2 linked regions of the Homo sapiens genome follow. The protein of the gene in region 1 interacts with the protein of each later gene in a biochemical or structural test. Each region holds a gene or a part of one and is shown on either strand. Other genes may lie near its edges.

Evidence for each region.
Region 2: the proteins of GARS1 (region 1) and NAE1 form a complex in vitro, tested with the Homo sapiens proteins (one study listed by BioGRID).

Annotation. Positions count from the first base shown.
Region 1 is NC_000007.14:30,590,105-30,598,046, forward strand, and holds the start of GARS1 (glycine--tRNA ligase isoform 1 precursor), read left to right. Parts: upstream 1-4,773; 5' UTR 4,774-4,817; coding exon 4,818-5,039; intron 5,040-7,942. UniProt on the Homo sapiens protein: Catalyzes the ATP-dependent ligation of glycine to the 3'-end of its cognate tRNA, via the formation of an aminoacyl-adenylate intermediate (Gly-AMP).
Region 2 is NC_000016.10:66,802,148-66,807,039, reverse strand, and holds the end of NAE1 (NEDD8-activating enzyme E1 regulatory subunit), read left to right. Parts: intron 1-1,013; coding exon 1,014-1,128; intron 1,129-1,213; coding exon 1,214-1,263; intron 1,264-3,921; coding exon 3,922-4,031; 3' UTR 4,032-4,162; downstream 4,163-4,892. UniProt on the Homo sapiens protein: Regulatory subunit of the dimeric UBA3-NAE1 E1 enzyme. E1 activates NEDD8 by first adenylating its C-terminal glycine residue with ATP, thereafter linking this residue to the side chain of the catalytic cysteine, yielding a NEDD8-UBA3 thioester and free AMP.

The sequences.
Region 1 (7,942 bases):
TGAATTCTATCAAATGGTTATGGAAGAAATGATAACAATCTTACAAATATTGAAATTTCAGAAAATAGAGAAGAAAGAAACTCTGATTTTATAAAGCCAGGCCAAAACCTGGCAAAGATACAAGAAAAGAAAACAATACACTGATTGCCTGTATGTTCATTTTTCATGAACATACAGGCAAAAATCTTTATCAAGATGTTAGTAAATAAAATCCAGCAGAATATAAGAAAGACAAAACCAAGTTGAATTTGTTAGCATTACACTAAATGGAGAAACATTGAACACTTTTCCCTCTAATATCAGGAACAAGGCAAGATGTTCATTCACTGCTTCTATTCAATATTGTGCAAGATGACCTAGACTACGCAACCACACAAGTAAAAGAAAAAGGCATAAATATTGGAAAGAAAGAAGTAAAACTGATTCTATTTACAAAGTATATGCATATTAATACAGAAAATCCTAAGGAATCGGCCGGGCGCGGTGGCTCACGCCTGTAATCCCAGCACTTTGGGAGGCCGAGGCGGGTGGATCATGAGGTCAGGAGATCGAGACCATCCTGGCTAACAAGGTGAAACCCCGTCTCTACTAAAAATACAAAAAATTAGCCGGGCGCGGTGGCGGGCGCCTGTAGTCCCAGCTACTCGGGAGGCTGAGGCAGGAGAATGGCGTGAACCCGGGAAGCGGAGCTTGCAGTGAGCCGAGATTGCGCCACTGCAGTCCGCAGTCCGGCCTGGGCGACAGAGCGAGACTCCGTCTCAAAAAAAAAAGAAAATCCTAAGGAATCTACAACCCCCGCCCCTACAAAACAAATAATAGCACTAATAAGTGAAAGTCTCAATGTCACTATACAAAATCAATTATATTTCTCTACATTAACAGCAAATCAATGGAAAATAAAATAACATTCACAAGACTCAAAGAATAAAATACTTAGGAATATATTTATCAAAATGCATTCAGTGCTTTAAACTATGAATTCTCCCCAAATTAAACTACAGGTTCACAATTCCAGCAGGTATTTTTACAAAGTTGATAAGTCAATTCTAAAATTTATATAGAAATAGAAAGAACCTGGAATAGAAAAACAATTTTGAAAAAGAAGAAAGGGTAGACAATATACATTATTTGACTTCAGGAATTATCCTCAAGCAATAGTCATCAAGGAAGTGTGATACTAGCATAAAGATTGATAGATAAATGGATCATTAGAACAGAATAGAGACCCCAGATATAGGTCCACCTTATATGGTGAACTTATTTTTGACAAAGGCACTAGAGCTGATCAATGGCAGTAATTTTTTGTAAGCCCTACTTTTTTCCAACAAATGATGCTGTAGCAACTGGATATCTATATGGGAAGAATGAACTTTGACTCTTACCTAAAACTATACACAAAAGTTAATTCAAGATGCATCATAGACCTAAACATAAAACTACTAAAATTTTGGACAAAAATATGGGTGAATATCTGAGAGTAGGCAAAGATTTTTTAGAACCCAGAAAAAAAACAAATTGATAAATTAGACTTCATCAAAATTAAAAATTTCTGCTTATCAAAACCATCATTAACAAACAGGCAAGCCACAGACTGGAAGAAAATATTTATGAAACATGTACCTAGCAAAGGACTGTATCCAGCATATCTAAATCTCCTATAATTCAATATTAAAAAGCAAAGACAAAAAATGTGGATGTTTCACAAAAGAAGAGGTACAAATGACCACTAAGCACATGAAAACACAATCAACTCTATTAATCACCAGGAAAATGCATACAAGTCACAATGAGATACAACTATTAGAATAGCTAAAATCTGGAAGGCCGGCAACATCAAATGTTAACAAGGATGTGGAGCAACTAGAACTCTTATATATTGCTCTTAAGAACATAAAATAATACGACCACATTGGAAAAACTTGTGACAATCTAATAAAATTAAATATGCATCTATTGTTTGACTCAGTAATTCCGCACCTAGATATTTACCCAAGAGAAATGAAAACATATAGCTACAAAAAAAGATGTATGAGAATGTTCACAGCAGCATTATTCATAATGGTCTACAATATGAAACAACCCAAATGTCTATCAACTAGTGAATAAATTAATAAATTATAGTATATTCACACAATGGGATACTTCAGAGCAAAAAAGGGCAAGTTTCTGATATGTGAAACAATATGGATTAATCTCTCACACATTATGGTCAATTAAAGACATCAGACACAGAGTACATATTACATTATTTCATTTATACAACAGTCTAGATCTAAGAGGAAAATAAATGAGAATAGTGATCGCCTGGTTGTGGAGGGTGGGATGACCGGGATGACATGCAAGGGAACTTTGTGGAGTCAGGGGAAAATGTTCTTTATCTTGCTTGGTGTTGGGGTTACAAAAGGATATTGCTTTGTCGAAACCCATTGAACTATACATTTTTGTTCATTTTAATGTATGCAAAATTTATTTCCCTCAAAGAAATGAACTTTAATAAAGCAAGAAAAATATATGATCATACATACACAATACTAGGGCCTCTTGCAGGGCACTTAAAGAGCCCAACAGAGAAAGGGGCTAAACTCACTTGAAGCTTCATTAGCTATGTAGAAAATCTGCCTCTGCCCCCAGCTCACATTCTGGCCCAACACTCACTTAGTTGTGTGACCATGGACAAGCTGTTTGATATCTCAGTCCCTTGAATCCCACATGTGAAAATTCTGAATAACTATAGAACCTATCTCACTAAATTGGTGAATAAATTCCATGAGATAAATTAGAACTAACTGGTACATAGTGAGTGCTCAACAAACATAAACTATTATCATTATTGTGCAGACACAGTTTTCAAAAGAAAACTGTTTGGGAAATTCTTCCAAGGGCCATGAAGAGCCTACTGAAGTGTCCTGAGAAGAGAAGGGACACAGTCAGATTTGCCTTTCAGAAATAATGACTGGGCCGAGTGCAGTGGCTCACACCTGTAATCCCAGCACTTTGGAAGGCTGAGGCGGGCGGATCACGAGGTCAGGAGTTCGAGACCAGCATGACCAACATGGTGAAACCTCGTCTCTACTAAAAATAAAAAAATTAGCTGGGTGTGGTGGCGCACGCCTGTAATCCCAGCTACTCAGGAGGCTGAGGCAGGAGAATCGCCTGAACCCGGGAGGCGGAGGTTGCAGTGAGCCAAGATCACGCCACTGCACTCCAGCCTGGGTGAAAGAGCGAGACTCCGTCTGGAAAAAAAAAGAAAAAGAAAAAAGAAAGAAAGAATGACTGAAGCAGCAGTGGGGAGGATGAATTGGTCGGGGAGGAGGGAAGAACGGATTTGGAGTCCTTTCAGGACTGTCCTAACATGAAAATGGATGAGACATTATTGATCTAAGGAATTTTTTAGAAATAAAATAGTTTTATTCAAAGGATATAGAATTTCAACATTTTAATAAAAATCTAAATAAAAATAAAAGTAAAACTTAAAATGATTTTTCACATTTAAAGATATTAAAATAAATTCAAAATTGCCTAGTAAAATAAAAGCCAAATAAATTATAATTAATATCAAATCTTGAAATAAAAGTGTTTAAAAATATAATTGTTCAATATTGCAGAAGGTTCTTAAGCAACCCACCCTGCTCATGTTGAATTGTAAGTACTTCTCCAGAACTGCACACTGGAACGGGAAGAGAAATAACATGGACTTTCACACCATTAGGAAAGGAGACTTCATTATACTGAGCCCGTCTACTCCTGCACACTCCTGGGGTGGGATTGTGGGTCACAGGGAGACGTACGTGCATACTGCCGAAGAGCTCCCAAGTGGCTGGCTGCACCAGTTAACACTCCCCTGAGCAGTGTAGGGGAGTCTCAGAGGGTCACTTGGCATTTTCCATCATTTTCATTTTAGCCATTTTTGCAGGTGTGCGCAATGCTGTTTTTATAACCAACACATCATTTTTCTCTTCCTTTCCTGGAGGGGGAACCCAGCTTTTCTAGGCCCTCCACCCTTTGGGCAGGAGGAACTGGGTGTGTGGGGCGGGGGGAAGCCATCTCTGGGTGGTTGGTCAGCTGGGGCCTAACCACAGGAGGCAGATAGACTGAGGCTATGCCAAGCAGAAAGACTTATCAGGCACCTCTTGCCTTTCCTCATCTCTGCCGGTTCAAATCCTGCTCGCCCCGCAAGGGCAGATTGGAATTTACCTTCTCCAGAAAGCCTGGGGTGACTCTATCCCCTCACTCCTCCTCCCCCGTTCGCCAGCTTTTGTCTTGACATCGGCGGACCAAGAATGTGTGACTCTGGGCAAATCATTAACCTCTCTGGGCCTATTTCCTTATCTGGGGAACATCTGCACTTGAGCAACAGAAGTCTAAGATCCCTATCTGATTTGATGTTTTGCGACCCTTTTAAGGCGCAGGGCGCGAAAGAACAGAAACAGAAGTGTCCGTTCAAGTAGGTCGGCCGGGGTGTCACTCGTATAAAAACCTATGCTTTGAAGGTTCTCGTGTGTCTCGGCCTGCAGGTCTCGCTCAGAGCTGTGTCCCTGAACATCCACCCTGCTGGGGTGGCTTGACGCACTTCTGTGCAAATCTGTTCGCTCGCAACCCTACCTACCTCTCTCCCGAACCGGAGAAAACCTTCGGCGGGGTCCTTCCGGGTTTTGTGTCGAATCTGCGGCGGCGACCCGGCGCCGCGTCACGCGGTGGTGAATGTGCGGCAGCACGCGCGCCGCGTCGTTTACGCGGCGATTTCATCATGCTCCGAGCCGGGCGGCGCGCGCCGCTTCCGTCGCCACCCTCTCTGGACAGCCCAGGGCCGCAGGCTCATGCCCTCTCCGCGTCCAGTGCTGCTTAGAGGTGCTCGCGCCGCTCTGCTGCTGCTGCTGCCGCCCCGGCTCTTAGCCCGACCCTCGCTCCTGCTCCGCCGGTCCCTCAGCGCGGCCTCCTGCCCCCCGATCTCCTTGCCCGCCGCCGCCTCCCGGAGCAGCATGGACGGCGCGGGGGCTGAGGAGGTGCTGGCACCTCTGAGGCTAGCAGTGCGCCAGCAGGTACCGGTGTTTTGCGCTCTCCGCTAAGCCTCCGGCTCTCCTCCCAGGGCCTTCTTCTGGTCATCCTTCCCTCCTCCCCGGGGAACTGTCCTCCTCTTCGGTTACCCCTTTCTTTCCCTTCATCCTCTGGCGTCTTCTTCGCCTCCCCCACTTTGGTCCCAAGTCCCCCGTGCGTCAGCCACCTCCTCTCCCGCGGACCTCCGTCCTCCTCTCTTTTTGGATGACTCCCTGGAACCCCTCCGACTTCCTGCGTCCCTCTCCGGCTCCGTTCTCCCTTCCCCATTCTGTCACAGCCCGCGTCTCCTCTATTTCCAGTGGGGCTGGGATCTGTGACCCTTTGGTTGTCCTCGCCTCCTAACTGAATAACCTTAACTTCAGTTTTCCAGGCTCTGCTGTACTCTTTGTGCACCCTGGGTGGAAAGCCTCCTAATTCTTTCAGTGGTCAATGATGAGCCGAAAAACTGCCGGTTCTTTCGTCTTACGGCCAGGCCCTTTAATCTTTAGGATGCTTTGATAGTGTTTCCCCCTTAACATCTTCCTTCATTCAGTGCTTAGTTTAGCGGAATGATTGGCTGAGAAAATAGAATTGAAATGTGGATGTGGGGAGGTGTCGAACTTTTCTATTAATGCTGTGAACTCATCATCCTTTGCTCTTGTCATCTTTTCTGGCTTCTGAAAAGGCCGTTTGGAACCAGTGAGCCCTCAGATCGTAAACCTGGGAAACTAAGTGTTGCGGAGTGAAGTCAGCCATCCTTAGTATGGAATATTTTGACATTTGATTTTCCCGAAGGTGAGGGAAGGTTTCATGGGCTGAAGGACTTGGTGATTTAATATAGACCTCCTTTTCCTAGGGCACTGCCATAGAGTTTAGAATTTAGAGATATCAAGGAAAAGATTATTTCAGATGATTCCCATATGCAATTAGGGAGAGCCAGAGCTTGCAGTAGGACCCCGGAGATCATGACTTAGTAGTAAACACCAAACGGGTTTCTCCTGCATGGGCGCCTGATGCAATAATTTGCCTTAGCTACAGAGGGTGGAACCCTATCTCGGAAATAATTCATTGGGGCATAGCTGCCGCAAATTCAGCCACTTTGCCATCTGTCCTCTTCGCTGGTTTGAGCCTGACCGATTTTAATAAATAGCCTTTCATTTTGAAATATCACCACGGGCTTAACTTTTTTCTTCATGATTGGTGTCAGAACACCGATTGCATATTCTGTCTCCCTCCACCCACCTTCCACTCCACAAATAAAATTAGGTGTGGTTCCTTTGTCTTTTCTTAACTTGCCATTTTAAAAAATATCCTTCCCTTTAGAAGGAAGCATACAACTAATTTGGAGAAAAAAAAAAACCACCACACCCAAACCCCTCCCTCTGCCACGTTAGCCTGGAACTGCAGTGAAAATCATCCATCGGTAGTTAAGACAGGATCTAGTTAACTAAAGTAAACTTTGATCGCGGCAGCTTTCCGATGCTACTAACTACTGTCTTGTGTATTGTTTATGTTGTCTTGATTATTGTTTTGTACTTTAAGATATTTTCCGAATATACGAGTTAGTTGATTTAAGTTAGTTTGGATATTTTTTTCTAATTTTCCAAGAACACACATATATCAGTTAGTTAATTGTGTGAATTACTGAGTCCTATGTCAGCTGAAAAATAATTTAAAGATGATCTAATTTTACCCATTTTTTGTATATGGGGAAATGAGACACACTGTCACCCCTATCCATTTTGGATAACTCCATTGTGAAGTGCAATTGAAAACCTTTCCGGAGTGGGATTTTTACTTAATGACTGGTCTTGTTAGTAGCACATGTTTCATAGAAATTTGTTAATCTGGAAAATGAATGAAGTGAGTTTGTCACTTTAAGAAAACAACGGTTAGTATTTGTGGCCAATAATAAAATTCAAACTTTGGGGAAATTTTAGAATTTGGGAAGACTCGTATCTTTTGCTGTGAGCTTGGCAGCTTCACAGTCCTTAAAGATATCTGTGATGAGATGAGTGGTGATATTAACAAACGTGGATTTTTTTTTGATAGTATTTGGATAATCTGCGTAACTCAGTGAACCAGTGTTTTCCAGGTGACCAATGCATGATGTTATGAAATCAGGTATTGGTGAAAGAGCCATTCAAAGCTTAAGATACATTAATAGATTTATTCTGACAGTACAAAAAATTCATTGCTATAGTTTCTGAGTTAGAAATAACCTTGAAGAAGCTACCACTTGTCAGAGTTTTGAGGTAGTATCAAAGAATATCCACAATTATCCGAAACGGCTTTTAAAATTATTTTTCCTTTTCCACCTACATATGTCTTTCTTCATATACTTTACCCAGAACGTCATATTACAAAAGAAGCAGACTTTCCACATTGGTCTTTTAGGATTTTTCACAGATTAAGGTTACCAAAATAGTAAGTGCCAAACTCAAAATTTAAAAACCCATGAGGAAACAAGCCACCTTGAGTGAGACTTAGGGGAAATGATAATAGAATTAGATCCTCCAAAAGTATTAGAATAATCACATATTTTTAAAATGCTTAAGATAATTTTTAAAATAAAAGAAGTACTCAAAAACATGAGCAAAGAACAAGAGACTACCAAAAACAATCACACAGTGTGAAAATGAAGCACATATTGTATGGAAATGGATCACTGAAATTAGAAACTCTGTTGGGTGCCCAAGGGCTATATCAATTTAACAACTTTAATTACTCAGCTGAAAGTTTTTCATCCTATATAGGTAATATTTTGTTTGTTTACTCAGATGACCTATTCCACCATATTACTATAAATATGGAATTAGTATAAGTTGTTGGAAGTTAATAAAATAATTCAGAAATATTAGCAAGGAAAAAATTCCAACTGTAAAGAGAAAGGCAAAGGAAGATGAGC
Region 2 (4,892 bases), on another chromosome or scaffold:
GGGAATAGCTGGCGGCTGGTCAGGTATCTCTTCACGTGGCTAGCTTGGACTTCCTTTTGGCATGTCAGTTGGCTTCTGCAGTTAACATTCCAAAAAACCCAAGTGGAAGGTACAGGGCTTTTTATGACCTAGCTTTGGAAGTCATACAGCATCACTTATGAGCTAAGTAACTTAATCTCTCTGTGCTTTAGTTTTCTCTTCTATAAATGGAGATAACTATACATACTTCATAGGACTGTTTTGAGGATTCAATCAATTAATATAGATATAAGGTCCTTAGAACAGTGTCCAGCATCTATTAATGCTCAATAAATGTGACCTATTATTGGCCAGGCATGGTGGCTCACACCTGTAATCCCAGCACTTTGGGAGGCCAAGGCGGGTGGATCACTTGAGGCCAGGAGTTCGAGACCAGCCTAGCCAACACTGAAACTAAAAATAGAAAAAATTAGCTGTGTGTGGTGGCGCACTCCTGTAGTCTCAGTTTCTTGGGAGGCTGAGGCATGAGAATCATTTGAACCCGGCAGGCAGAGGTTGCGGTGAGCCGAGACTGCACCACTGCACTCCAGCCTAGGTAACAGCAAGACTCTCTCTCAAAAGAAAAAAAAAAAGTTACCTATTATTAATAGCTTTATGTCCTCAGTGTCATTTATCATTTAGTCTTTTAGAATTGGAGAATAACTTTTATAAAGGGTATAAGTAGGACATTACTTTCTCATTCATTAAGTTCTTCTATCAAATAATTATTAAGCACTATGTGCCAGATGCTTTTCTAGACAGTGAATATGATGCAATTAATAAAGATTTAATTAAATTCAAATTTTTACTAGGTTTTAGTTGGTCTCTGATTATAGGTTTGTGATATGTGCAAATATTGGTCTCATACTTTGTTATTTTTGTTCTTCAGTTTCATACATATTTTGACTAGAACATCTGAAACTAGATTAAATAAAGGAGTTGGCCATTAATTTTGAATCACATTTATTTTAATGAAAACTAACTTTTATTTTTAGGAGTATCTAACTATCAAGTTGAAGAAGATATAGGAAAGTTGAAGTCTTGTCTCACTGGCTTCCTTCAGGAATATGGTTTATCTGTAATGGTGAAAGATGATTATGTCCACGAATTGTGAGTATTTTTTAGGGTATCTAGGAGATGATTCCACACCTGTCATAAGGCTAATCAAAATTCATGTCTCTGTGGTCTCCTTTAGTTGCCGATATGGAGCTGCTGAGCCACATACCATTGCTGCATTCTTGGGGGGTGAGTTCCATATATGAGAAGACTCACCTGTTGTTACATAGTACAGTTACTATTTTAATACAAAGTTTTGTCGTCTAGCTATTTTAATTAGGGAGGTCAGTGAAGCAGGATGTTATATTTCTTTCTTTTTTTTTTTTTTGAGACGCAGTCTCACTGTTTTGCCCAGGTTGGAGTGTATTGATGCCATCATAGCTCGCTGCAACCTCAAACTCCTGGGCTCAAGTGATCTCTCGCCTCCGCCTCCTGAATAGCTGGGACTACAGGCATGTGCCAGTAAGCCTGGCTAATTTTTCAATTTTTTGTAGAGACAGGGTCCCACTATGTTGCTCAGGTTAGGATATTTATTCAGTTGCCCCTATACTGGTCTCCCTGCCTTCCATCTCTCCCACTGCCATCCAACTTAAACTCCTTAAGAGTCATTAATCCTTCTAAAGCATAGCTCTGATTGTGTCCTTTTACTAACCCTCTGCCCCACCAATATACATAACACTCTACAACAGTCCTCCAAGCAAGTCCAAGGACTTTGGCTTGACGTTAAAAAACCCTGTGTTTTGGTTCCACTCGGCCTTTCCAGCCTTGGTTTTATCATATTACTTGCTTTCCCCCCAGGATGCCCTTTGATTTCCTGCTCCTAGATCTTTGCTCCTCTGTGCCTATTTGCCTTAAAAATATGTTTTTCTGCATGTCCAAAACCTATATGTTCTTCAAGACCCAACTCAAAAATGACATGTCTTTCATAAAAGCTCCCTTTACTTCCCTCCCTCACTCTACTTCCCCCTTGTCTTAGTCAGTTTGGGCTGCTGTAACAGAATATCATAGACTTATAAACAATAAAAATTTGTCACAGAGTTCTGGAGGCTAGAAGTCTGGGATCAGGGTGCCAGCATGGTCAGGTCTGGTGAGCGCCCATTTCCTGGTTCATAGGCAGCTCTCTCTTCTGTGTTCTCACATGGTGAAAAAAAAAATGGCAAGAGAAGTCTCTGGGGTCTCTTCTTAGGGCACTAATCCTATTCATGAAGGTTCTACGCTCTTGACCTAATCACCTACCAAAGGCCCTATCCTCATACAATTACACTGGGGGTTAGGATTTCAACATATGAATTTGAGGGGGAAACGAACCATTCAGTCCATAACACCCCTCAAAAAAAATTACTGTCCTGTGATCTCCTGTAGACTGAGCTATTAGCTTGTGGCATTTTCCTTCTAGATGTTGAATGTTTTAAAGGCAGATTTAGGTCTAATTAATATTTGAAGTGTTCAAAATGTAAATGCATCATACAGACCTAAGAAAACTATTTTCTAAGCAAATCCAAATTAAAGCCTGATTCAGAATAATTTATTTTAAACTAAAACCAAGTAGTCTCTTGTGCCAAAGTAGCAAAATTTTCTGCCAATTCACAGAAAAGGGCAAATTATTATTTATTCAGATGCAGTCCAGAATCTAAGAAGAGGTACAGCCAGATGGATGGACTGGATGACTTAACTATAGCAGAAAAAAGTATAAATTGAAGGTTTTCTTTGTTTTTTTTTTTTTGTTTTTTACTTCTGTGCATTCTGTAATCATTTTGCACAGTGCCATTATATCCCTTCACTTCCTTCAGGTTTTATTCAAATGCTGTCTTCTCTGCGATGCCATCCCTGACTCTCCTATTTAAAATACAAACCCCTTCTCTTGTATTTATATCTCCCTTATTTGCTTTTTCTCCTTAGCACCTATGGTCAGTTGACATACTACACATTCTATTTATTTGTAAATAAATTCTCTCTCTCTTGCTGCTAAAAAGTAGCATGAGGGTAAGTGGATCTTCTTGTCTTTTTTCCTTACTGTATCCCTACTGCCTAGAACAGTATTTGGTGCACAGTAGTCTCAAATTCTATCCAGTCGGCTGAGCGCGGTGGCTAATGCTTGTAAGGCCTCCGCTTTGGGAGGCTGAGGTGGGCGGATCACTTGAGGTCAGGAGTTCAAAACCATCCTGGCCAACATGGTGAAACTCCATCTCTACTAAAAATACAAAAAAATTATCCAGGTGTGGTGGCAGGCATCTGTAATCCCAGCTACTTGGGAGGCTGAGGCAAGAGAATCACTTGAACTTGGGAGGAGGAGGTTGCAGTGAGCCGAGATCACGCCACTGCACTCCAGCCTGGGTGACAGAGTGAGACTCTAGTCTAAAAAAAAAAAAAAATTCTATCCAGTCCATGAATATTTGGGAAAGAGGAATCTTCAGGTTATAGAAGATGCACAAGTTTTTTTCTTAGTAGTTTTTTTGTTTTGAGTAAATATAGCGGTCTGGCGATATTTAATATAGATCCTTCCTAAATTACAAATGCATTCAGAACAAATATACCTTTCTCCTTTTTTATTATAAAACAGATACAAGGTAAAATTCAAATGCAGCAGTAGGGTGTCCTTTGAGAATCTTTTATGCCTGTGTGTATCCTTTAAAGTTTGGTCAACCACACTACTGTTTAGATTTCCTTTAATAACAAAAAGAATTATAGGCTTTTATGTTGATATGACTCAGTAAGCTAACTGCATCTGTTTTGGGTCACTTTAAAACACCTTTGCTTTTGAAAAGGAAAAGTTTCTTTACAGAATTGAGTATGTAACTCTTGAAGTTTACTCTTTCAAAGATTTGCTTTTCTCCTTTTTCCTTTCAGGAGCTGCTGCTCAAGAGGTCATCAAAATAATCACCAAACAATTTGTAATTTTTAATAATACTTACATTTACAGTGGCATGTCACAAACTTCAGCAACTTTCCAGTTGTAGAGTAAGCAAGCACCTTAAGTAGTGTGTTAATGATTGAAACTGTAATTGCCTTCGGGTTGTGCTTTAGTCTGTAAAATTCTAAAGGAGAGCTGCTAAATTGTTTTCTTAATAAACATTTTTCTCATTTGTAATAATGTAGTCTTGTTCTTTGTGGGGAGGGGAAAGGAGACAGTCATTTTCCTAGAAAATGAATCCTATCCATTTCTCACTGAGCATCAATATTGGCTTGCTATTTCAAAGTTACTTGTCATAGATTATCCTTGTGTTTTATTAGAGATAATTAAAAATTTTTTTTCTTACCATCTTCAATAATGAATTTAAGCCATGTGCAGATGTTAGCTATGGACATTTTAGGACCATCATCATTTGTTAAAATGAATAGAATTTAAAAAGATATTTCTGGATATGTAGTTTTCCCAGAAAACAAGACCATCCCCTTGTATGTAGTATTATCTTAATTAACTTGAGTTTTGGCTGCCTAACCTACTTCTTGAAATTTTATGGGGTCATTCTACTCATATTATATATACTCTTAAATTTAATCACATGGGACTAATAGCATTCACCAGCATATTAGAGGGCAAAAAAAAAAAGGAAGTAGTAGATGCAAACAGAGTGGAAATCCAGAATCCAGAAGTGGGGGCAGTTCCCGGTTTTGGGCTTGATGTATTAATACTTAGGGCTGAGGAACGTGGTCCGTGGTGCATGACTCTTAGTAGCTAAGGCCCCTAATCTGCTGCAACTGTCTCTGAGGCCAGCGTCTCTTAAGTGAGAACCTGTTAGATTTGCTAGGGTACCTCACAGGGACTTGGTTTTCCAGACGCTAATGTGTCAGCCATTCTTTGGCTGTTCTTCACTGTA